6 separate regions of the Homo sapiens genome follow, and all the other regions are reported to be linked to region 1. The links are microRNA targets in miRTarBase. Many come from high-throughput screens and were not tested one by one. Region 1 holds a microRNA gene; each other region holds the end of a gene's coding sequence.
Evidence for each region. The annotated mature microRNA hsa-miR-10b-5p reads UACCCUGUAGAACCGAAUUUGUG and lies in region 1 at 2,292-2,314, shown strand. An mRNA with a match to its seed (bases 2 to 7 or 8) in the 3' UTR can be bound and repressed. Matches are read on the target gene's strand: a 7mer-m8 pairs with bases 2 to 8, a 7mer-A1 pairs with bases 2 to 7 and ends in A, and an 8mer does both.

Region 1 (3,829 bases):
TCAAACCAACGCAGTAAACACCAAGGCAATGCGGTCCCCTCCGCAGCCCAACCCTTCTTAACCTGGTCTAGCCTGGCCAACCTTCTGTTTTTAAAAAAATTCACTGAAAACAAAAACTCAATCCTCTGTGGCCGTGGGTGTGTTGAGTTGCCCGCTTCTGAGCTTTATGTGGACATTCCTTCCCCGCCCCTCCCCCGATCTGTTTGCAGCGGTGTGGGCCCTGGGCTTGGGACACTGGCTGAGCGAGGAGGGATACGGACCTTCTTTTCACCTCTGCTTCTCTGTAACTGCAGTTGGAGAATTTCCGCCCCAGAGGCGCTGGTGCTGCAAGGAGGCATAGGAGGGTGGAGTGGGGTGGATGCGGTGGGGTGGGGCCAGAGACTCGTGGGATCCTTGGCTTGGATGTTTGGATCTTTCTGAGTTGCCTGTGCCGCGAAAGACAGGTACATTTCTGATTAGGCCTGTGAAGCCTCCTGGAGGACCATCTCATTAAGACGATGGTATTGGAGGGAGAGTCACAGAAAGAACTGTGGCCCCTCCCTCACTGCAAAACGGAAGTGATTTTATTTTAATGGGAGTTGGAATATGTGAGGGCTGCAGGAACCAGTCTCCCTCCTTCTTGGTTGGAAAAGCTGGGGCTGGCCTCAGAGACAGGTTTTTTGGCCCCGCTGGGCTGGGCAGTCTAGTCGACCCTTTGTAGACTGTGCACACCCCTAGAAGAGCAACTACCCCTATACACCAGGCTGGCTCAAGTGAAAGGGGCTCTGGGCTCCAGTCTGGAAAATCTGGTGTCCTGGGGACCTCTGGTCTTGCTTCTCTCCTCCCCTGCACTGGCTCTGGGTGCTTATCTCTGCAGAAGCTTCTCGCTAGCAAACCCACATTCAGCGCCCTGTAGCTGAACACAGCACAAAAAGCCCTAGAGATCAAAAGCATTAGTATGGGCAGTTGAGCGGGAGGTGAATATTTAACGCTTTTGTTCATCAATAACTCGTTGGCTTTGACCTGTCTGAACAAGTCGAGCAATAAGGTGAAATGCAGGTCACAGCGTCTAACAAATATGAAAATGTGTATATTCACCCCGGTCTCCAGCCGGCTCAGCAGGCTCCCCCAATTTGTCTGGATAGAGCCTAGGCCCAGTGTCCCAGGAAGGTGGATACTTGGGAGTCTTTGGCATTCAGGGAAATTGGGGGGACTCTCCTGGGATAAACAGATTCTGCAGCCTCATAGCCCTTGTTAGAACTGGCGCCCCCAAAATCCCTACGAAACAGGTAAAGTGGTGGAAGCAAAGGATGGGGGGATGAGCAAAGTGCCAGGCTTGGAGGGGGAGTATCCCTGCCCCACCCCACCAGGCCCAGGCCCAGGCTTGAAACTAAATTTTGAATTATGTGGGAGGTAGGAAGGGCAATCAAGACAGTTAAAAAAAAATCTAACACCTTCAGCCTACAGTTAGGCACCCAAAAGCCCCACTCGAGCCAGGGCATCCCTGTGCCCCTGAAATCCATCGAGGCTCTGAGTGAGTCTGCGCTCTCCATGCCCTGAACTGAGGGACAAGCACTGCACAGTGCCGAGGCGCTGGGGCGGGTGAAATTTGTGAACTTTTGTACTCTTGTGTGCTGCTGTCGGCAAAGCAAAAATAATGAAAGTTTGTGATATGTTTGTAAATGATTTCGAATGACCCCTCGCCCTGCCCTTCACCATTAGCGCGCCGGCCTCAGCCCAAGGCGGCTCGGTGCCTGTGAGCAGCGCCTGCCTCGGGGTCTGCAGCAGCAGCGGAACGGAGAGGCCAGCCCGGATCAGGGCCCATGAAGGTAAATGCGCGACTTCTTGGAGAAGTAGCTTTGGCAGACAACCTGGCTTGGTCGGGCAGTAGGAAAAGGAGTAGACACAGGATATTCCCCTCTCGCTTCTTTTTCTTCTGCCGCTGAGGGCATTTGTTCCTTTCTGGAAAATACCACTTGGTAAGGAGGAGGGTTATTTGGATCCTGGTGGGGGAGGGTGGTTAATAAAGCCGCCATCCTTGGGATGGATTATTTTTCTTTCTTTCTTTCTTTTTTTCTTTCTTAAGAAGAATATTCTGGTTGTTCGCCTGCTTGGTAACCCTGACCCTGGCAGAAGAATGAGGGAACTCATTGCTTCAAATTGTCGCCAAGCCCATTAGGCTACCTGAACTGTCTCAGAAAGTGCGGGTGGCTGCGTCGAACGGTGGTGGCTCAGAGGAAGAGATTGGGGCCGGCAGCGACCTAGGTACCTCACTCTGGGTGGGACCCAGAGGTTGTAACGTTGTCTATATATACCCTGTAGAACCGAATTTGTGTGGTATCCGTATAGTCACAGATTCGATTCTAGGGGAATATATGGTCGATGCAAAAACTTCACGTTTCTTCGGAATAGCCAGAGACCAAAGTGCGACATGGAGACTAGAAGCAGCCGGCGCTGGTCAGCCGCCTCGTTCTGTTTTATTACCTTGGACTCCAGGAGGATCAGCTGCGCCTGGTGACATAGAGCAGCTTTTCCTCTCCAGAAGCTCCTCACCTTTAAACAGAGTATCCTCTGGGTGCTGAAAAGAAAGAAAGACAGAAAGAGAGAAAGAGAGAGAGAGAGAGAAAGAGAGAATGCAAGCCTAATTGGTTGCATGGATGCAGGGCCAAAGGGCTAGGTTTTGGGGTACTAGGGAGTGAGGTACAAGGCCAGCTTGCCCAGTCCCAGCTCTGCCCTCCAGGAACATGAGGTGCAAAGGTACCCAAATGGGGGCTTGCTTGTATTTGGGGCCTGTGGGAAGAAAGCAAGCTTCAAAGAAGCCCAGTGGGGAGCTCTAGGGTGCATTTTGACAAGGTGGAGGTGCCCTTGCCACCATCCCAGCCCACCCCCAGCTACATGGGCAAGGGCAGCGAGGGCCCCCTGCTATTTTGGCAGGGCCCAGCTTTGGCTGGGAACCCCCGGGCCTGGGCACTGGTAGAAAGCATGGCGGTTACTCATTGCCTAATTTGATTCAAGCTGGCCAGATTCTGGTAACTTTTGGGTGACCCTGATGAAGACAAAGCCAGGACGGCGGCCTTTGTATGGCAGAATCCCTGCTCCCGCCGGCTGCAGGCAGGGCGGGCAGGCAGGAACCCTCCTCGCCTGGGGCACTCTGCCCAACTCAGAGGCGAGTTCACCCACCCACCTTTCATTGCTCTGTACCCCAATAGGAGGATTCATTCTCCCTTGAGCTGTGCCTACTTGGTGTCGGGGGGCGGGGGTTGCATTCAGCTGGGGGTGAGTGGAAGGGCCACGGAAGGTTGGCAAAATCAGTGGCAGACAAAAGCTGGGATTACCTGAGGGGAATGGGGTGCTGGGGACTGGAACTACATTAATATCTGGCAGGGGCTCTCAAATGTGCCATAGCAAGCTACTTGATTACACGTATGTTATTTAGTTAAATTTGTGAAAATTATGAGATGCTCACCAACCCGGTGATAAACTTGCTCCCTCGCCATTGGCTGGCCTGGTCACATGGCTGCCCAACTTTATTCAGTTGACAGCAAGTAGGAGGGCCCTATGGAAGGAGAAAAAAAGACAACACGAGAAAAATTAGTATTTTCTACCTTCTGAAATTAATGGTCATGAGTTCGTATATGGTGAACTCCAAGTATGTGGACCCCAAGTTCCCTCCGTGCGAGGAGTATTTGCAGGGCGGCTACCTAGGCGAGCAGGGCGCCGACTACTACGGCGGCGGCGCGCAGGGCGCAGACTTCCAGCCCCCGGGGCTCTACCCACGGCCCGACTTCGGTGAGCAGCCTTTCGGAGGCAGCGGCCCCGGGCCTGGCTCGGCGCTGCCTGCGCGGGGTCA
Region 2 (3,000 bases), not on the chromosome of region 1:
CAGAGGGCGGAGGCCCCAGCTGACCAGGGGTCAGAGGTTACAGATAATCAAAGGGAAGAGGCCGTACATGACCAGAGGGAAAGGGCCCCAGCTGTCCAGGGTGCAGATAATCAGAGGGCACAGGCCCGGGCTGGCCAGAGGGCAGAGGCTGCACATAATCAGAGGGCAGGGGCCCCAGGTATCCAGGAAGCTGAAGTCTCAGCTGCCCAAGGGACCACAGGAACAGCTCCAGGAGCCAGGGCCCGGAAACAGGTCAAGACAGTGAGGTTCCAGACCCCTGGACGCTTTTCGTGGTTTTGCAAGCGCCGGAGAGCCTTCTGGCACACTCCCCGGTTGCCAACCCTGCCCAAGAGAGTCCCCAGGGCAGGAGAGGCCAGGAACCTCAGGGTGCTGAGGGCCGAGGCCAGAGCAGAAGCTGAGCAGGGAGAGCAAGAAGACCAGCTGTGAGGTGAGGGCTAGAGACAGCCCACGGGCCCTCCCTCCAAGTGTGGGAGGGAGAGATGCTCTGCCTCTGAACTTCAAAGTGGAGGTGGAGTGCTGGCCACGTCTCCACCTAACAACCCTCTTTATTCTCTTGTTAAAGTTTTGTTCATGCTTTGATTTTTTTTTAAATTTTTTAGAGACAGGGTCTCACTCTGTTGCCCAGGCTGGAGTGCAGTGGCATGATCATAACTCACTGCAGCCTCAAACTTCTGGCCTCAAGTGATCCTCCTGCCTCGGCCTCCCAAAATGCTGGGATTACAGATGTGAGCCACCACACACACCATCTGATTAAAAAAAAAAAATACTGATTCCTTGTAGCAACCCAAAAAATGTAAAGAAAGAATTCGACACAATGGGGTTGCGTCACCTATAGTTTTCATTTCCTCAAATGCAACTCAAGGTGCTCAGCTTGATAAAGGGAGAGAGGGAGGGCAGGGGAGAAACTGACTCCTTTTTCCATCTCTTTTTTGCCTGCACACTTAATGTGGACTGCCTCCTTGGACTTAAAAAGAGTTGAGCCAACATGCAAATCAAAAAACATTTATGAACTGATTTCTTAGCTTTGGACTTGACAACTGACGAATGCTCTGGGGGTGACCTGGCCCTTGCTGTCCGTTCCACTCCCATCCTTGATGATGGAGACACCTGTGTTTATGTTGTCACTTCGCTTGCCATCCTCATGCCCCGGGCTCTGCTGGTTTGGAGGGGACAGGGCCCTTGGTTTGCACACCTCACCCGATCTTGGTTATAAGGTACAGTAAAAGCGTCTGAAAAATGCATTCAAAACACAGATTCTGGGGCCCTCGGCACCAGAGGTGTGGATTTGCTAGCGGTGCCTGTGTGGCTCTGAATTCTGTTTGCATCAAGCTCCACGGACATCTGGGCAACTCGGCCACTGGACACATTGAAAAATCATTGCAATAGGAAAAGGCCCAAAAGAGGGGCTGTGGTTGGCCGGGCATGGTGGCTCACGCCTGTAATCCCAGCACTTAGGGAGGCCAAGGCGGGTGGATCACGAGGTCAAGAGATCGAGACCATCCTGGCCAACGTGGTGAAACCCCGTCTCTAATAAAAATACAAAAATTAGACTGGCCTTGTGGCGCACGCCTGTAGTCCCAGCTACTCTGGAGGCTGAGGCAAGAGAATCTCTTGAACCCAGGAGGTGGAGGTTGCAGTGAGCCGAGATTGTGCCATTGCACTCCAGCCTAGTGACACAGTGAGACTCTGTCTCAAAAAAAAAAAAAAAAAAAAAAAAAAAAAGAGGCTGTGTGTATTGTGCATTAATTGCTGCTGCATTTTTTTTTTTCTTTTTGGAGATGGAATCTCACTCTCTGTCTCCCAGGCTGGAGTGCAGTGGCACGATCTCGGCTCACTGCCATCTCCGCCTCCCTGGTTCAAGCGATTCTCCTCCCTCAGCCTCCCGAATAGCTGGGACTACAGGTGTGTGCCACCACACCTGGCTAATTTTTGTATTTTTAGTAGAGATGAGGTTTCACCATATTGGCCAAGCTTGTCTTGAACTCCTAACCTCAGCTGATCTGCCCACCTCTGCTTCCCAAAGTGCTGGGATTACAGGCATGAGCCACTGCACGCGGCCAACTGCTTCCTATAATTGGGAAGAAACTGGGTTGCTAAAGCCCTGTGGAGGTTAGGAGGAAGCTGGGGGCCTGTATTGCCTTGTGTCCCCACAACCCCTAGCAGTGAAAAACAGCAAATGACCACACTCTAGCCTTGCTGAGGGCAGGAGAAAAGAGAGTTCGTGGAGGTCCAAAGGCCAGTCTGTCTTCCTAACTGGTTGCAGGCCTGGCCTAAGTTTCTTATTTTTTTCCTCAGGAAAGTAAAGAATTCTATCCCACCACCCTCCTTTTGTTTTTCTCTCTTCCACCCTCCTCCCTCCTTCCCTCCCTCCCCTCCCCTTCCCTCCCTCCCCTCCCCTCTCCCTCTCTCCCTCCACTCCCCTCCCCTCTCCCTCTCTCCCTCCACTCCCCTCCCCTCTCCCTCTCTCCCTCCCCTCTCCCTCTCCCTCCCCTTCCCCCTCCCACCCTCCCTCCTTTCCTTCCTTCCTTCCTTCCCTCTTTCTTTCTTCCTCCCTCCCTCCCTCTCTCTTTCTCTCTCTCTCTTGCTTTCTTTCCTTTCTCTTTCTCTCTTTTCTTTACTCTTTTCTTTCTTTCAAGACAGGGTCTGGCTCTGTCACCCAGGCTGGAGTGTGGTGTTGCAATCACGGCTCACTTGCACTCTTGGGATCAAGCGATCCTCTGGCCTCAGCTCTGGGACTATGGGAGTGAGCCACCGCGCCCCACCCCTGCTCTTTTCTGAGTGGAGTGGTTACTGCTGGTGCTGCTTGCTGCCTGGCGCGCCGCATGGCCTTGCTAGAGCCGCTTTGTGCATGCTGGTGGATACTTGGCCGTGTAGTCCACGGCTCACAGCAAGAACGAGGCCCTGGGAGGTTTGGAAGAAATACAAGCTGTGGACCTCACCTGGAGGGGAGGCTTTGCAGGTGCGCGGAGGAAGACAGGC
Region 3 (3,829 bases), not on the chromosome of region 1:
TGCACTCCAGCCCGAGCAACAGAGCAAGGCTCTGTCTCAAAAAAAAAAAAAAAAAGTAGTTAGTTAATGCAAAAAGCTCCTATCTTCTAGACTGTTAGAATTTGATGGGGTTGGGCCGAGCGCGGTGGCTCATGCCTATAATCCCAGCACTTTGGGAGGCCAAGGTGGGCGGATCATGAGGTCAGGAGATAGAGGCCATCCTGGCTAATATGGTGAAACCCCATCTCTACTAAAACTACAAAAAATTAGCCAGATGTGGTGGCACATGCCTGTAGTCCCAGCTGCTCGGGAGGCTGAGGCAGGAGAATCGCTTGAACCCGGGAGGCAGAGGTTGCAGTGAGCTGAGATTGCACCAGTGCACACCAGCCTGGTGACAGAGCGAGACTCCATCTCAAAAAAATAAATACATACAAAATAAATAATTAGAATTTGATGGGGTTTTAGGTCATTCTGTTTTGACTTGTCTATGGTCAAAATATTTTCCCCAAAGCAAACATTGGAAATAATGGGGCTCATTTTAAAGGGGCAGGTGTGAGACAGCCAAACTAGTGAGCTTATTGGAAGCAATCAGGTTAGTAATTACAGAGGGTTGGTCTTCCCTTTCCTGGCAAGGATTTAGAGTCATAATAGTGATGGCTTTTTGTTAAAGGTTTTTCTTGCCCTTTCAGGAACTTCACCCTGATGAAATTGACACCGACTCTGCCTACATTCTTTTCTATGAGCAGCAGGGGATAGACTACGCACAATTTCTGCCAAAGATTGATGGCAAAAAGATGGCAGACACAAGCAGTACGGATGAAGACTCTGAGTCTGATTACGAAAAGTACTCTATGTTACAGTAAAGCTACCACTCTGGCTGCTAGACAGCTTGGTGGCGAGGGAGATGACTCCTTGTAGCTGATACTTGGCAAAAGTGTCACTGAAAGACAAGCTAAATGTAGTTATTTTATCCTGTTAGAACAAAAATTCTAATTAAAATAGTTAACTTGAAGAGTAGAAACAATTGTATTTTGAAGTCTCATACAAGCTGTCTGATAGAGAACTTTCAGGCAGATCCCACCATTAGCCTGTAAACAAAAGGTGTGGCACCAGCCACCTGGGACCAAATAAGAATTGAATTGTGCTTGTCCAGATATGAACAAATATGTAGTGAGTATAGAGTTTACCAATAATCATAACAAATATTAAAGATTTCCTTGGAGTCAGAGGAAAAAACAAACAATTATAATGTTGTCTAGGGACGACATGATACGCTACCTCCTTTTTCCTGAAGTTTTATTCCATTATATTGACAAGATGGAGAAAGCAAGATCATGAAGGTGTGCAAATGATTCTTACGGCATGGACAAGGATTTTTCAATTTATTTTTTAAACTGTTTCCATACCCTTTCTTTTTCTTGCTTTTTGTTTTTGCCATTGTGTTTACGTTTGAGACACAACCAGTCATTGGTGGCAGGGGCATAGAGTGGTCAGTCTGAAAGGGAGGCTCTCTTAAGAGCTATGTGCCTTCCAACCAGAGGGAGACCCAGTAGAAAGAAAAACATCCTGGGAAATCCAGCTACCAGGGCCCTCCCAGTGGAGGCATCTTACATTTAGGCTACTTCAAGTATCCTCAGAAATGTATTCTGCACCCCCGGCCCCGCCCATGCTGAGGGAAGGGGAGCAGTTGCCAATATTTGCACCATCTTCACATGCACATGTTGCAACAAGAGCTTCTGGGAAGGTAAGCGGCATCGGAGCTAGATCACGTTTCACAATTAGTGGTTATTCTTTTCTGTGTTTGTTTTGCACTTTAAAAAAGAGAGAACACATGCAAATGAACTTGCTTGTGTGTATTTGATGGCTCTAAGGGCTATAAATTACAAACAAAACACATCCCAGACATTAGGAGTTCATAAGTATATTTAATGAAATTGGTGGTTTTAGGAAGTCAACTTTAGTTTTGCTTTGTTTGCATGTCCACTGGTTTTTTTATTTTGATATTTGTCTTTTTTTAAATTTTACAGTAGTCATTGAAAGTTATGTTTCTTTGCTTACTTCATTTTTTCCCTCTAATTATTTAAGATTGGAACAAAAGTATAAATATTATTTATTTGAGGTAGAATTTTTTTCATGTAGTTTCTTAATATATACTTGAAGGAAATGTTTCACCTTATTTTTGGTCTTTGTTTATTCATTTAGACCCTGCAAGTTGATTCTCATTGCCAGATTCCATTACCCTTTCTTCCTCATAGGTAGTAATTACCAATGTAACTAAGCATTTGTGTTCTGATATCTGAGGCCAGTAACTATTAATATCTAGTTCTCAGAGCATTTGGAAAGGTTATCTTAAATGGCTACCTAAATTGAAATCCTTTTCAGAAAAAATATAATTGCAAGTAGGTAGGAGTGGCCTAAATTGTCTAATGTAATAAAGTCAGACAAAATGCACACTTTATAGTTTCAAGATTTTCAGTAAATAAAATCTGTCCATTCCTACCTGGACATGTCCCATTAAAAAGTGGAAGATTTTAAATAATTTCTTTACAGATGTTTTATTTAAACAGGTAGCACAATCTACTAATGTTGTGTGATTTGTGTTATACTGGTTGTAATTAATTTTTTTAATTCATGAACTAGCGGAAAATTTATTAAATTAACTATTAACTACATTCACCTTGTAAATTACTGTATAAAACTTGTTGACAATGCACTGACTTTAGAAAGATGTTAATGTACATAAATAGAGTGTAAATAAAATAGTGTTGATGTACTGAAATATGAACTGTATCAAAAGTATTGGTAATTGTATATGGGGTGTACCTGTTTATCTGTTAACTATTATCCAAACAAATTAAATACTGTGGTTGCCTCTATGTGCTGTTTTTCCTCATACAAGTAAACACAGAAAGTCAAATTCTTCAGCCTCCCTCTCTGTGATCCTGTTTTAATTCTCCTACTTGAATAATTTCTTTCTGACTTGTATACAGAGGGGATGCTTCATCTCTGAGGTTGGAAACTCTGTAGAGCAGGATTCCCCAACTCCTGGGCTACAGACCAGTACTGTCCATGGCCTGTTAGGAACCGGGCTGCACAGCAGGAGGTGAGTGGCGAGCTGTATTTATAGCCGCTCCCCCTTGCTCCCATTACCGCCTGAGCTCTGCCTCCTGTTAGATCAGCAGCGGCACGCCATTCTCACAGGAGAAAGAACCCTATTGTGAACTGCGCATGCTAGCAATCTAGGTTGTGTGCTCCTTATGAGAATCTAATGCCTGATGATTTGAGGTGGAACAGTTTTATCCTGAAACCATTCCCCCCATCCCCCCAGTCCGTGGAAAAATTGTCTTCCACAACACCCATCCCTGGTGCCAAAAAGGTTGGCAACCACTGATGTAGAGGGTAGAACAAGATCTCTCCAGTGACCAGGTGACTTTAAACATGGCTCACATCCCTTTTAGAAAGTTATGGCAGGGAAGCAAGTAGAGAGCAGGTGGTAAACTGAGGATTGGTGCCTACATTGGTACCTACAGTGGGTCCTACAGTCATTTTTGTGCAGATCAGGAGATGAGGTGAAGAGAAGGAAAGCTTCTCATTTGCATAATGCCTTGAAATGACCCTAGGTTTCTAGCGGGCACCGAGAAACCAGAGATGCCCCTTGTTGTCTGTCTGGGAGATCCAAGGAGACATCTGGCAGTGTTGAGAAGAGATGAAGGTGACAGCTGTAGGTCCTTCACCCTCAGCTTCTATTTGTTCACCTATAAAGTTAAAATACGGAACACTCAGGCTTGTAAGAATTAAATGAAGGACACAAACCCTGGCACAGTTGCTTGGTAAGTGCTCAATCCAACGA
Region 4 (3,829 bases), not on the chromosome of region 1:
AGCATTATTGGAATACATACTGTTTTGATGGAAGGTTAGTAGCCTCTTCTTTGACTGAAAAGATAATCTGTGTATTTATTCTGTATTAAATAAATGTGATTTATTAAAAATAAAGATAATTTAATAAAATCTTAAAAGACATATTTTATGTTGCCATATGTCCTAGGTAAAGTGTTACGTTCCAATTTTACTTAGTGAAGTTTGGATTGTCAATAAAATGCTAATACCTACAATGGTAAGTTTTAGGAGGCATGATTCCCACACCAAGGTAGAATTGTTACTGTGGTGTGGAATAATGGATTGATCAGGGAAAGGCAACATAGAAGATCTTTGCTATATGTCTAGCTCTTCCACTAACTCTTGGGTAGGATACTTCACTTCTTTGCGGCTAGCGTATGCAAACAAATGTCGTATTTCTTAAGCTTAATGCTGGAATTAGAACATTAACGTGCAAAAATGCTTTGGTAATTTTATGTATATGTGTACTTGTAAAAGAGTTGGTAAAGATGGTTTATGTAAATTAAGACACTCTCAACATACCCCCTTCCCCTTTTTTTCTACTCACACAGTGTAAAGAACATGATCTGGCCATGATTAACCAGTTGCTGGATGACCCGAAGCTGACAGCCAGGAAATACAGAGAGTGGAAAGTCATGAACACCCTGCTGATCCAGGACATCTATCAGCAGCAGCGGGCTTCGCCTGCCCCTGATGACACTGATGACACCCCCCAGGAACTCAAGAAATCACCTTCTTCTCCCTCTGTTGAAAATTCCATTTGAGACAAAGTCAGGGTTTTCTCCTCTTATATTTTATCACAAGCAACTCTTCAAGATGTTGCAAAAGCTTACATTTTTCCTTAAAAGGAAAACTGAAACCCAGTCCTTCAAGCATCAGCTTCCCATCTAAAGATGCACGTTAGATGAAGATAATCACCGAATACACCAGGGCTCCTCATTTCAGTCGTAACGCATCCATTGAGATTGGAATGATTGAGTTCAGTTGAAAGGCGTTTTTTGTGTTCCTACTGGGAGCTCACGGTGATGTGGGGCTCTAGGGGGGATGTGAGAAATGTCTCTTCTGTTCATTGCTCTCCAGAGAATGCTATGGACAAGAATCAAATTTTACCAGGAGTAATTGCCCATGGAAACATTCTGTTTTTCAAAAGAAGAATGTACATATTCCACTTGACTGGGAAGCTGTGTGGCCCAAATCACTGTTTGAGTGGAGGAATGTTTTCTAGAGCAGTGACTGGAAGGACAAACGTGGTGTTGCAGAACAAAAATTCCTTGCCTTTGGTATGGAATGGTGGTGCCTTTTCCATGTGATGAGAAATGCTTCATAGACAGTGGCATGTGGGAGAGCTGAAGGAGGAGGCGTGTTCCATATTCCACTCATTCAAAGGACAGCTTGGTGTTTTCACACTTTATGCAGGTTAGGGGATCTGATTAATGTTTCCTTTCCTTACAACAGCTAGAGAAAACATCTCATCACAATTGGAGACCTCTACTTCCTTTGAGCTTTCCTACTCAATGGTAGGAGATAGGAATATGTTCCGCAAAGAATGTCTACTGCTCTTGTCCTTGGCTGTGATCCCTATACATAGTGTGAATTTATATCCAGGTTTCCCAGGATCAATATTGACAAGACGACTTTGGCATCTGAATTGTTTTAATATCTTTACTCAAAAAAACAAAAAAACAAAAACCCATGGAAGCAACAAAAGAGTTAAACATGAGGGATTTATTTTTGTATGTTTATATGTCACTTGTGTGCTATGTGAATAGCTATGTTTGTTATTTAAATATATTTATAGAAGTTCAAATTACTAGTGTTTAAAAGATGATATACTATTATATATTGTGCTTAGTATATATTTGATGAGTCTATACTTTTTGCTTGAGAAAAATAGAAATACTATTGATTCACTGGTGTTATGATGTTGCACTGTGTCTGAGGAATGCTCAGGAAATCTTGTGGGAAAAAAATGGGGCATGCATTCATAATTTTTCATTTTCTTCCCCACCCCAACCCCCATGAGCTCTTAAATTTAGATTTCTATCTCTTGTAAGTCACTCTTTTAACCAGCAAAGGACTTTCATCTTAGATTATCCTTTCTATTAAATAAACTTTAAGCTTTGTGCCATTTATGCCTGCAAACCTTAGACCAAAGGCAACACAACTAATGTCATCTTTTCATTAAAGACTAATAGAAATTTAGAAATCATTGTGTTAAAGAGAGCTATAGAGAAACAATATGAAAGTCTTCCCTTACTAATCACCATGAATATTTCTCACCATAGGAATAACCACAACCCACCAAGTACCCATGTTGGCCCTGCCTACCCGTAACAAATTGTTCACACAACCTATTTTGTTTTATAGCTTCAAAGTGTGGCTTGACATTCAAATGGAAGGAACCACCTGAATTATATCTGCAAACAAAATGGAAATAGTTGTTGAATAGTTCCCCAAGCTTTACTAAGAAGCCTTAATACTCTGTAAACAAACAAACAAACAAAAAACAACCTTAGCATTAAGAAATAAAAACAAAAAACAAGAAGCAAGTTGTACTGCTAGAAACTTCTCTAAGATAAGAGGCCAGGCCAGTCAGTTTGGCCCAGCAAACATGTGGGTACTTCTCCACCTAGGGAAGCCACTGAAGATGAGTTTGACCTGTGGTGACCTGACAGAGAGAACATTCAGATCCTCAGATTGCACCCTGATGCCCTGGTTTAGGAAAGCAGTGCTTTAACCTTTTGCCCCTGGAAATTACTGATTCTTTCTGTGATTAGCAGATACCAGAAGGGAAATTATTTAGGATTGGCAATGTAAAGAGTATTGAAGGAACAACAAATAACAATAGCAGAAATAACAGTGTGACATAAAGTGCCCTTCCACCTATTTTTCTTTGGTTTGCAACACCAGCCTGTAGACTTCCAGTTTTTCTTAAATTGAAGAGCTCCAGACACTTTTGAGCAGGGTTTGTGAATAGCTTTGAATGCTTTCCTTTGGCTTTTCGTGAAGACATATTTCCCCAGCCTTTCAACTGTAAACTCCTTTAGTACCATTGAAACTTAAGGCAAAAAAGATCCCTGGGATTACTTAGCCAAGGCTTAAATTTATTTTTCAAAGTCAAGAACATTAGCCTAGAAGTTTTTGCTTTGCTAGTTAAAGCTTACTTTGCAGAGCTTCCCAAAGTGAAAGGGAAACTGAACTTCACAATTTTGCACCTGGCTTTCTGGAGCCCCATTGCCTGCTCATTCGTGTTTTTCCCCCTGTAAATTATTTTGCTTTTGACCAGGTTGTGCTAGAAAGTAGGGCTGCTTCTGTGAGTTCTCAGCCTAGGCTGTGGCCACTAAGACGTGGGTGGGGGGATAGACAGGAGTGAGAGGGAGAGTGGGTGACACTTTCCGTGACACTTAATGTAGGAAGACATGGGCTTCTCTCTCTTGGCCTCAAGCCACTTTTCTGGTCCAAAGAATATTGGGAAAACTGGATTACTTTCAGTATATTTCTTGAGACCGGGTCATCTCTGAAATGCATTTGGGGTAGTTTCCTGGGGTCCAAGGGCCAATTCCTATACCCAGTCCTGCAGTGTCTGTGAGCTGTGGAATGAGAGAGAAAACCATGGCTGCTCAGGAAGGAAGTGGAGAATCTCTCAGCACACGTAGATCCAAATCTGTGGCACCTGCTAAAGATTAGGATTTGGAGAGGACTCCTCTTTGGGGTTGTGAAGAGGACCTTTTCCCTCTGTTGTTAGCCTGTAGATCCAGAACGGAGCCTGATGTGATGCCTTCACTGGTTGATATATTGCAAATAGACACTC
Region 5 (3,829 bases), not on the chromosome of region 1:
TGAAATCAAGACCAGCAACCTTTGCCCTTTAATTTGAAGCATTTCAGAGACTCCAATTTTATGTGCTAGACTGTTTTGTTATATCCCAGAATAAGCAGGTGCCTCTAGTGGAAAAACTGCCTAGATGTCTCCTTGTCTCTCCATTTTCTTCTTCTAGATCTTGATCCTGTAATTCTTCATTATATTGCAAGCAGATTTTTAAAAATGTGCAGCTTTTATATTAATAGCCACTGTCAGCAGTGGTGTTCATCACTATTACCTGATATTTATTTCTGGAAGTAGAAGATCTGCTTTTTAAAATATATAACATTATATATCACATAACAGGAACAATAGCAGCCTTACCATTAAAGGGTTGGTTCTATTTATGCTTTTCTCTTTCATTCCTAGACAGCAAGGTAGAAGTTCTATAACATATCCCACTCTAAACTCACCTTCATTTGAGTGCCATAAAGTATCTCAATCTTGCTCTCACTCTCCAAGTGCCTTAGGTTTTACCTTGCTAATGTGAACCAATTTCCAAATCTCAAGCCACCATTCCTTTCAGAACTGGAATTATGGATTTGTGTTCATCAATGGACGTAACCTTGGGCGATATTGGAATATTGGGCCTCAGAAAACACTGTACCTTCCTGGAGTTTGGCTTCATCCAGAAGACAATGAGGTATGTCACTCCAGTCTCTGCCTTGAGATCTCATAAACTTTCAGATCAAAATGTGAGTTGCAGTGTCTTTTTCAACCTGTACTAAATAGGCTTCACCTTTCCCACTGTCAACCTTTCTTTTCTTCTCAGGTCATCTTGTTTGAGAAGATGATGAGTGGCTCAGATATCAAATCTACAGACAAGCCCACGCTGTAAAACTGTGTCTGAACATTTTTTTTTTTTTTTGAGATGGAGTCTCACTTTGTCGCCCAGGCTGGAGTGCAGTGGCACAATCTCTGCTCACTGCAAGCTCAGCCTCTCGGGTTCACGCCATTCTCCTGCCTCAGCCTCCCCAGCAGCTGGGACTACAGGTGCACGCCACCACGCCTGGCTAATTTTTTGTATTTTTAGTAGAGATGGGGTTTCACCAAGTTAGCCAGGATGGTCCCAATCTCCTGACCTTGTGATCTGCTCTCCTCAGCCTCCCAAAGTACTGGGATTACAGGCGTGAGCCACCACTCCCGGCCGTGAACATATTTTTTGGGTTGCTGGAGTTCATCTATAAGTCATTTTTGAGGAATAAGATTTATGTTAAGACTATCAAACACAGTGTTGCCTACAATAGCAAAAATGTGAAAATAACAACAACAACAAAACAGCAGAGGAATTGTTATGTATTTTGTAGTCTATCTATATGATGCCTATTTTTAGGCTTTAAAAAGTCTTCAAAATCTTTAATGACTGATTTATCTAGTTAAATGCTTAATCCTTAGCAGGCTCTTATTCTTTAATTAAACGTGCCTTTGAGTAGATGTGAATAAAATAAAAACAAGTTTCATTTCTGCCTCCCATACTCAATTGAAGGGAAGGGAAAGGTCTGAAGCCTGGGGAAGAGTAAGGATACTGATTTCCTCATGCCAGAGAGAGTATTGCATGTACTAATGGGCAAACTCACGGTCTCCCTCCTCTCTCTCTCTCTCTCTCTCTCTCTCTGTGTATGTGTGTGTGTGTGTGTGTGTGTGCGCGCGCGCGTGCATGTGTGTGTGTGTATGTAGGAGTAGGGGAAAGGAGAGGGCAATGAACAATGTCTTTCATTTCCCTTCAACTATGTGTCTACAAGGTGACCCTGCATGTCACATCTAATCAGAGAAGGAACAGAAATTTGGTCATTTGCTTCAGACACGTGTGACAACAAAGCTAGCGCAGGGTTCTCTGTGTCTTCTTACTCCCTGTCTATCTGGCTATAGTCAAGGCTACTACTGATAGTGGGTAGGCATTAGTGAGATTAGCCACACACACATGAATATTCCAACCACTATGAAAAGCCAGTGGAGCCATTTGAAAAAAATGGCACCATTGGGAACCAAGCACTTTCTTATATACAAAACACAGCACTTGGCCTAAATTCAAACCAATGCACTATAAGCAAATCTTATCACCCTGTTAAATATAGTGCCTAGGGCTTTCAAGTAATTTAGTAAGTAATCTTGTGTCCAGAGGGAAGAGAACCCTCTGTTTGGATTGGAATGAAGATAAAGATGTCAGATTATCTTCTCTCCCACTAGTCTGAATGACTATTTCAATGGAGGAAACTTCTGTGAGATACCTCCACAATTCTACATAAAACTTTATTCTCTGGGGATCTAGCCTCAAACCTATGAACTCTATAGAAACTGCAATGTAAAGGAGGGAAGCAGAACTAATAATCATAATGATCTTGAGTACATATTATATTTCAGGTGTAACATCTGCAACATCTAAACTTAACAACAACCATGCAACATATCCATTTTACAGATGAGAAACCAAGGTTCAAAGAGGTATTTGAAATCATGTCTCTCTGATTGGCACCTCCTCTTTCGCTACTACCTTAGTTCCACACGTATGCCAGTCTTTTCCAAATATGAATGCAAAAATGCTATTCAGAAGATATAATGCTTTCAGTGCACTTAGAGAAAAAGAGCTCACAACTTAGAATTCTTTACCCAGCAAAACTATTTTACAAGAAAAACAAAAAAAAAAAACAAAATATAGAACTTTCTGACAAACAAAAACCAAGAGAGTTATCATCAAAAGATCCCCACTAAATGATGTTCTGTAGCGGCCTTTCTCAATGTCCCATAAGAGAATTAAACACTGCAGAAAGTGTCTTCAGTGACTAGTTTCTCATTATATCATCTGGATGCATATTAGAGACGTTAACTCATTACATACTGTGGATGTCTTGGGGCATTACATCTTCACGCTCTCAGGGAACCACAGTTGAGAAGAAATTTCTAAAAGATATGCCACGAGCAGATGGAAAGTCTGACTTTTAAGAAAGAACGTGGAATCCAAGAAGGATGCTGACATATGTGAGAGTGAATATGGACAAACGTTAACTCCATAGAAATAGAGCCAATGTCTAACTTGAGGTAGCATCAGCATAAAACTCTAAGACCAGGCAAAAACACTGTGTAAAGCGAGAGGGATGTGATGGCCAAAAAGTGATCTAAGATTTCTGTAATTCTCAGATATTAACTTTAGACTTTGTTGAATATTCCTAGTTAATAAACTAAGCTTAATGTTTAAAGAATATACATAGAGCTTTTAACTTTCTAAAAAAATTAGGAGGATAAATAGAGTAAGAAAAAACAAACAAACAAAATCCTCTAACCAATAAAAGACAAAAGATAGTAGAAGATAAAGAAGTAGAAAAATAAGTACAAGTATAAATCATGCTGCTATAAAGACACATGCACACGTATGTTTATTGTGGCACTATTCACAGTAGCAAAGACTTGGAACCAACCCAAATGTCTATCAATGATAGACTGGATTAAGAAAATATGGCACATATACTCCATGGAATACTATGCAGCCATAAAAAAGGAGGAGTTCATGTCCTTTGTAGGGACATGGATGAAGCTGGAAACCATCATTCTCAGCAAACTATCGCAAGGACAGAAAACCAGACCCTGCATGTTCTCACTCATAGGTGGGAATTGAACAATGAGAACACATGGACACAGGAAGGGGAACATCACACACTGGGGCCTGTCATGGGGTGGGGGGAGTTGGGAGGGATAGCATTAGGACATACACCTAATGTAAATGAGGAGTTAATGGGTGCCGCACACCAACATGGCACATGTATACATATGTAACAAACCTGCACGTTGTGCACATGTACCCTAGAACTTAAAG
Region 6 (3,829 bases), not on the chromosome of region 1:
CAGGTATCTCTAGAGCTGTTTTGTGGACACCAGGAGCATCACTGGACAATCCCTGTGCTGGCCCCAGAGTATCCTGTGCACCTGGATGAGGCTGGAACACATCGGGGGCAGGGCCGCAACACGTCCACTCCAGAACAGCGTGGGACCTGGGGAAATTGCCAGTCATTTGCTGTCCCATCATTGCTGTTCCACGCATCCCTGACAACTCTGAGCATGGGTTGTGGTGAGGTAGCAGCTGGGCAGGACCAGAAATGTCCATTTTTGACATGGAGGCAGCAGACACCCAGGCTTGGGGTAGAAGTGAGGGCTCCATACCATTCCCAGTGACAGCTTCCCATGGTGGAAACAGGCAGGAATGTCTGGCAACCCACCAAGGGTCAGACGCCACGTCAGTCCGAGCAGAAGCTGCCTGACCCTGGCTGTTCCAATGACAATGAGACATTCTTGGGGAGGTGGAGCCCTCTGTGGGAGCTCAGAATGGGTGTCCTCTCGCAATCACTGTGTTAGAGCTGCGGTTCTCAATGCGGGCTGCAGTGCAGTTACCTGCGGAGCTTTAGGGCGCTCCCAGGGCTTGGCTCCCCGGACCAGGGCCTTGAGAACCTTCACAGCAGGGGTAGCCGGTGTTGAGAAGCGTGCCTGGGAGACCACATGGCACTGCCTGGCTGGGTCCTCGGTTGACAGAGGTGAGGGTGGGGCTCGTGGTGACTTGGTAATGCCGTGAATTATCTACATGTGGCAGGAAGGTGCCACATGCCAAAGGATTCAGGAAAGACAACCCCAAAGATAACCAGTGTCAGTTACAGTCTCCACCTCCTCGAAGAAGACATGGCCAATCCCAACTCCTTGGCCACGAGGGTGACCCACAGTCAACTAATATCTGCAGTTCTCAAAGAGGGTCCAGTCTCCTGTGGCATTCATCATGGTGCCCTTCTGGGATTAAGGAGGAACTCACTGCAATCTCATCTTAAACACTGTATCATCAACACACCAATCTCCCATTAGCCTGGGTGCAGCCTGCAGTCCTGTTCAATGGAGTATTTGGAGAGGCCAGTTTAAGATCCCTGGTTGCTCGATGCCTGCTGGTGCCAAGTGGAAGGGAGTATGGAGAAGCCTGCACCAGCCCTGCCTGCATCCTGAGACAGACACCATGTATCATGATGTATCTAGGGTTATTAGGGTCATAGTACAGAGCCTCCAAATAGGCCTGTGATCGTGCGTGTCCAAGTATTTCAATTAATACTGAAATAAAGTGCATATGTGACAGACACTCTACAACCCACATGGCCAGAGAGCCATTAGAACTAGAAACTCCAGCCTGAGTTTCCAGCTTTCATACCCTGCCCTGCCGAATTAGAATGCTGCAAATCTGATAATGATTACAAATACAAAATTATGCAGAAAACCCCCTTTGATAAATTCAAATTTGATCACTGAGAAAAGTGATCTCCATGTCACTTTGGAGATAAAAGTGTGGACATAAGACTCTCACCAAGAGCTTGTGGCCCAAGGCAAATCACACCCATGCCCTGCCCTGCCCAAGGCCCTGCATCTTGGAAATTCTAAGAGGTCGGCATAAGGATGAACTAAACACCAAGCGCAGTCCTCAAAGGAAAAATAAAAGAAATATCCACACAACGGACTCTTTGGAACTGAGCCTGGAGGAGGGGGCTGCCCAGTCTACTCCAGGAGAATTTGCCGAAAACAAGTCTGTTCCCCATTCCATTCTCTCACCTCTTCTAAAAATCACCTCCTCCCCATTCCTGTAATTTGCGTCATTCTGGGCTCCTGACTCTTGTTGCATCTTTTTGACATTTTAAGGATATCTGGATTCGAATTACTTAAGAGCACATATGGCTTAATTTTGTATTTCTGGTAATCATTTATTATTAAATTTGCCTCATTTTATCGAATGACAGTTTTTTTCTCATATCTATTTTTAATGTTAAAGATTTCGTATCCAGTTTACCTAAAACCCCTTGCTTAAAATGAGTTTAATTCTAGCAATAAATACATGTTTATCGCTCCATTGTTTTATAATTTGACAATATGTTTTTCCTCAATATATTACTATATGGATAAGAGTTTTAAAAAGATACAGTAACATCTGATCCTCTGTCTCACTTGATCATGTGGCTCAACGAGCCAATGCCTCCGTCAAATAGAAATATCCGGCAACACTTAATCTAATGACTAAGAACATCCAGTGTGCACCTACACCCACGATGAGGAGAAAAGACCAAACAGCCAAAAAGGGGAGAATCCCATGATGTCTGTGTGAACTCATACAGGTATCATGGATACTTATTGCTAGAAACAGTATCTTAAACAAAAGGTCTTCAGGCAAGTGTATTAAAACTGCCTTGGATATAAGGGGCCCTATCACTTGTAAAACGTTGCAAATTTGATAAATAATGATTAAAAATACAAAATTACGGAGAAAACGCCCTTTGATAAATTGATCTTTAAAAAAAATCTTAATTGAGGTTCTCTAAAGGGAGCCTTTTAGGCAACGTGCCCGCTAGGTGTACTGATTGCTAGGAGGGCTGGCGACAAGCGAATCCATGTGGCTCCCTCAGCCCTCTCTTGGAAGCAGCCTGGACAAACAGCCTGGAAATGCGCGCAGCCCCGTGGTCCATGGAGCGGAAGTGGTGCGATGCGCAACGGGGCCGCCTCCTTCTCCGCGCCCAGCCCTGCGGCCCCGCCCCGGCCCCAGCCCCGGCCCCAGCGCCAGGCACACGGGCCCTCACGTCCTCTTCTTCCAGGGCGCAGTGCGCCTCTCCTTCTGCGCCTCGGCCTGGCGCTTCTTTTCGGCCTCCTCTGCCTTCCTCTTCTCCTCCTTGGCCTCCTTGTACCGCCACTTGGGGATCTGCAGGTGGCCGCTGTCCTTGGTGCTGCCCTTCCGCGCCGGCCGCTCGGGCTGGAAGGTGGGCGCGGGCGCCTTGCTGACTCGGACCCGGGGCACCACCACACCGGGCCGCACGCTTCTCCGCCGCAGGCGCTGCAGGGGCAGGAGGCTGGCCTTCCGCGGGGCGGGCGCTGCGGGGCCCCGGGACCCCAGGGCGGGAGGGAGGCCGGCTCTCGGGGAGCCCTCCCGGGAGTCCGCGTCCTCCTGTCCGGTCCGCCCGCGCTGCCCCGCGCCCCCCACCTCATCCTCCTCCTGCGCCTGGGGGCCCCGTGCAGCCCGCGCCGCCAGGATCTCCTGCACCGCCAGCCGCCTCTTCCCCACGCTCGGAGGGCTCTCAGGGCACACGGTCTGGCACACGATGGCCACGGCGGGGCTGTAGAGGCTCGTGGTCATCCGGACCATGTGGTCCAGGACGCCCCCGTCCTCCGGGCCCCGCACGGAGCGCGGCGTCAGCACGGACAGCACGCAGTCTGTGAGCCTCTGCAGGCAGTTCTTGGAGCCCGCGGGCTTCCGCGCCGCTTCAGGGGGCGGCGGCAGCTCGGGCCGGTACTTCTCCCAGAACTGCTCCGGGCAGGGGCGCTCCAGCAGCCTCTGCATGAGACGGACGGCATCCACGCGGCCCGTGTAAGTGGCCCACTCCTGCGGCGACATCCCACGGCGGGGGTCCCTCGCGTGGACATCCGCCCCTGCAAAACGCAAAACACAAACAGAAGTGGGTGGCGGCAACAAGGACTCTTCCCTCCCAGGCAGAGCCTGGGGCAAAGGCAAAACTGCCCCCACCCCCCACCCCTGGCCCCAAGCCTCCTAACAGACTGCACCTAGTTCACTCTGCGAACCCTGTGCTCATCTGAGCGCCGGAAGGCGGGCCTGGAGTGCAGTGGCGGGAACACGTCCTACTGTAGCCTCGACTTCCGGGGCTCAAGC

Region 2: the mRNA of CCDC8 is a reported target of hsa-miR-10b-5p. Seed matches in the 3' UTR shown: 7mer-m8 at 623-629.
Region 3: miRTarBase lists USP6 as a target of hsa-miR-10b-5p. The part of its 3' UTR that is shown has no 7-base or 8-base seed match.
Region 4: the mRNA of IPCEF1 is a reported target of hsa-miR-10b-5p. The part of its 3' UTR that is shown has no 7-base or 8-base seed match.
Region 5: the mRNA of GLB1L3 is a reported target of hsa-miR-10b-5p. The part of its 3' UTR that is shown has no 7-base or 8-base seed match.
Region 6: miRTarBase lists ANKRD33B as a target of hsa-miR-10b-5p. Seed matches in the 3' UTR shown: 7mer-A1 at 1,334-1,340.

The regions. Positions count from the first base shown.
Region 1 is chr2:176,148,038-176,151,866 of GRCh38, forward strand. MIR10B (microRNA 10b) reads left to right here and starts at 2,266; the gene lies at 2,266-2,375. It overlaps HOXD4 (homeobox D4), which reads left to right and starts at 3,513. Exons shown (of 2, transcript NM_014621.3): 1 at 3,513-3,829. The coding sequence starts at 3,597. RefSeq lists enhancers at 160-703, 3,232-3,829.
Region 2 is chr19:46,408,641-46,411,640 of GRCh38, reverse strand. CCDC8 (coiled-coil domain containing 8 subunit of 3M complex) reads left to right here. Exons shown (of 1, transcript NM_032040.5): 1 at 1-1,312. The coding sequence ends at 447. Among named protein-coding and RNA genes, the nearest start is that of CCDC8, 3.4 kb to the left of the region's middle. RefSeq lists an enhancer at 2,437-2,961.
Region 3 is chr17:5,172,137-5,175,965 of GRCh38, forward strand. USP6 (ubiquitin specific peptidase 6) reads left to right here. Exons shown (of 38, transcript NM_001304284.2): 38 at 669-2,855. The coding sequence ends at 842. It also overlaps a transcript of ZNF594 not described here. Among named protein-coding and RNA genes, the nearest start is that of ZNF594, 18 kb to the right of the region's middle.
Region 4 is chr6:154,156,781-154,160,609 of GRCh38, reverse strand. It overlaps IPCEF1 (interaction protein for cytohesin exchange factors 1), which reads left to right. Exons shown (of 12, transcript NM_001130700.2): 12 at 570-3,829. The coding sequence ends at 782. It also overlaps a transcript of OPRM1 not described here. Among named protein-coding and RNA genes, the nearest start is that of OPRM1, 120 kb to the right of the region's middle.
Region 5 is chr11:134,318,084-134,321,912 of GRCh38, forward strand. It overlaps GLB1L3 (galactosidase beta 1 like 3), which reads left to right. Exons shown (of 20, transcript NM_001080407.3): 19 at 548-664; 20 at 794-1,481. The coding sequence ends at 859. Among named protein-coding and RNA genes, the nearest start is that of GLB1L2, 12 kb to the right of the region's middle.
Region 6 is chr5:10,649,028-10,652,856 of GRCh38, reverse strand. It overlaps ANKRD33B (ankyrin repeat domain 33B), which reads right to left. Exons shown (of 4, transcript NM_001164440.2): 4 at 1-3,591. The coding sequence ends at 2,744. Among named protein-coding and RNA genes, the nearest start is that of ANKRD33B, 87 kb to the right of the region's middle.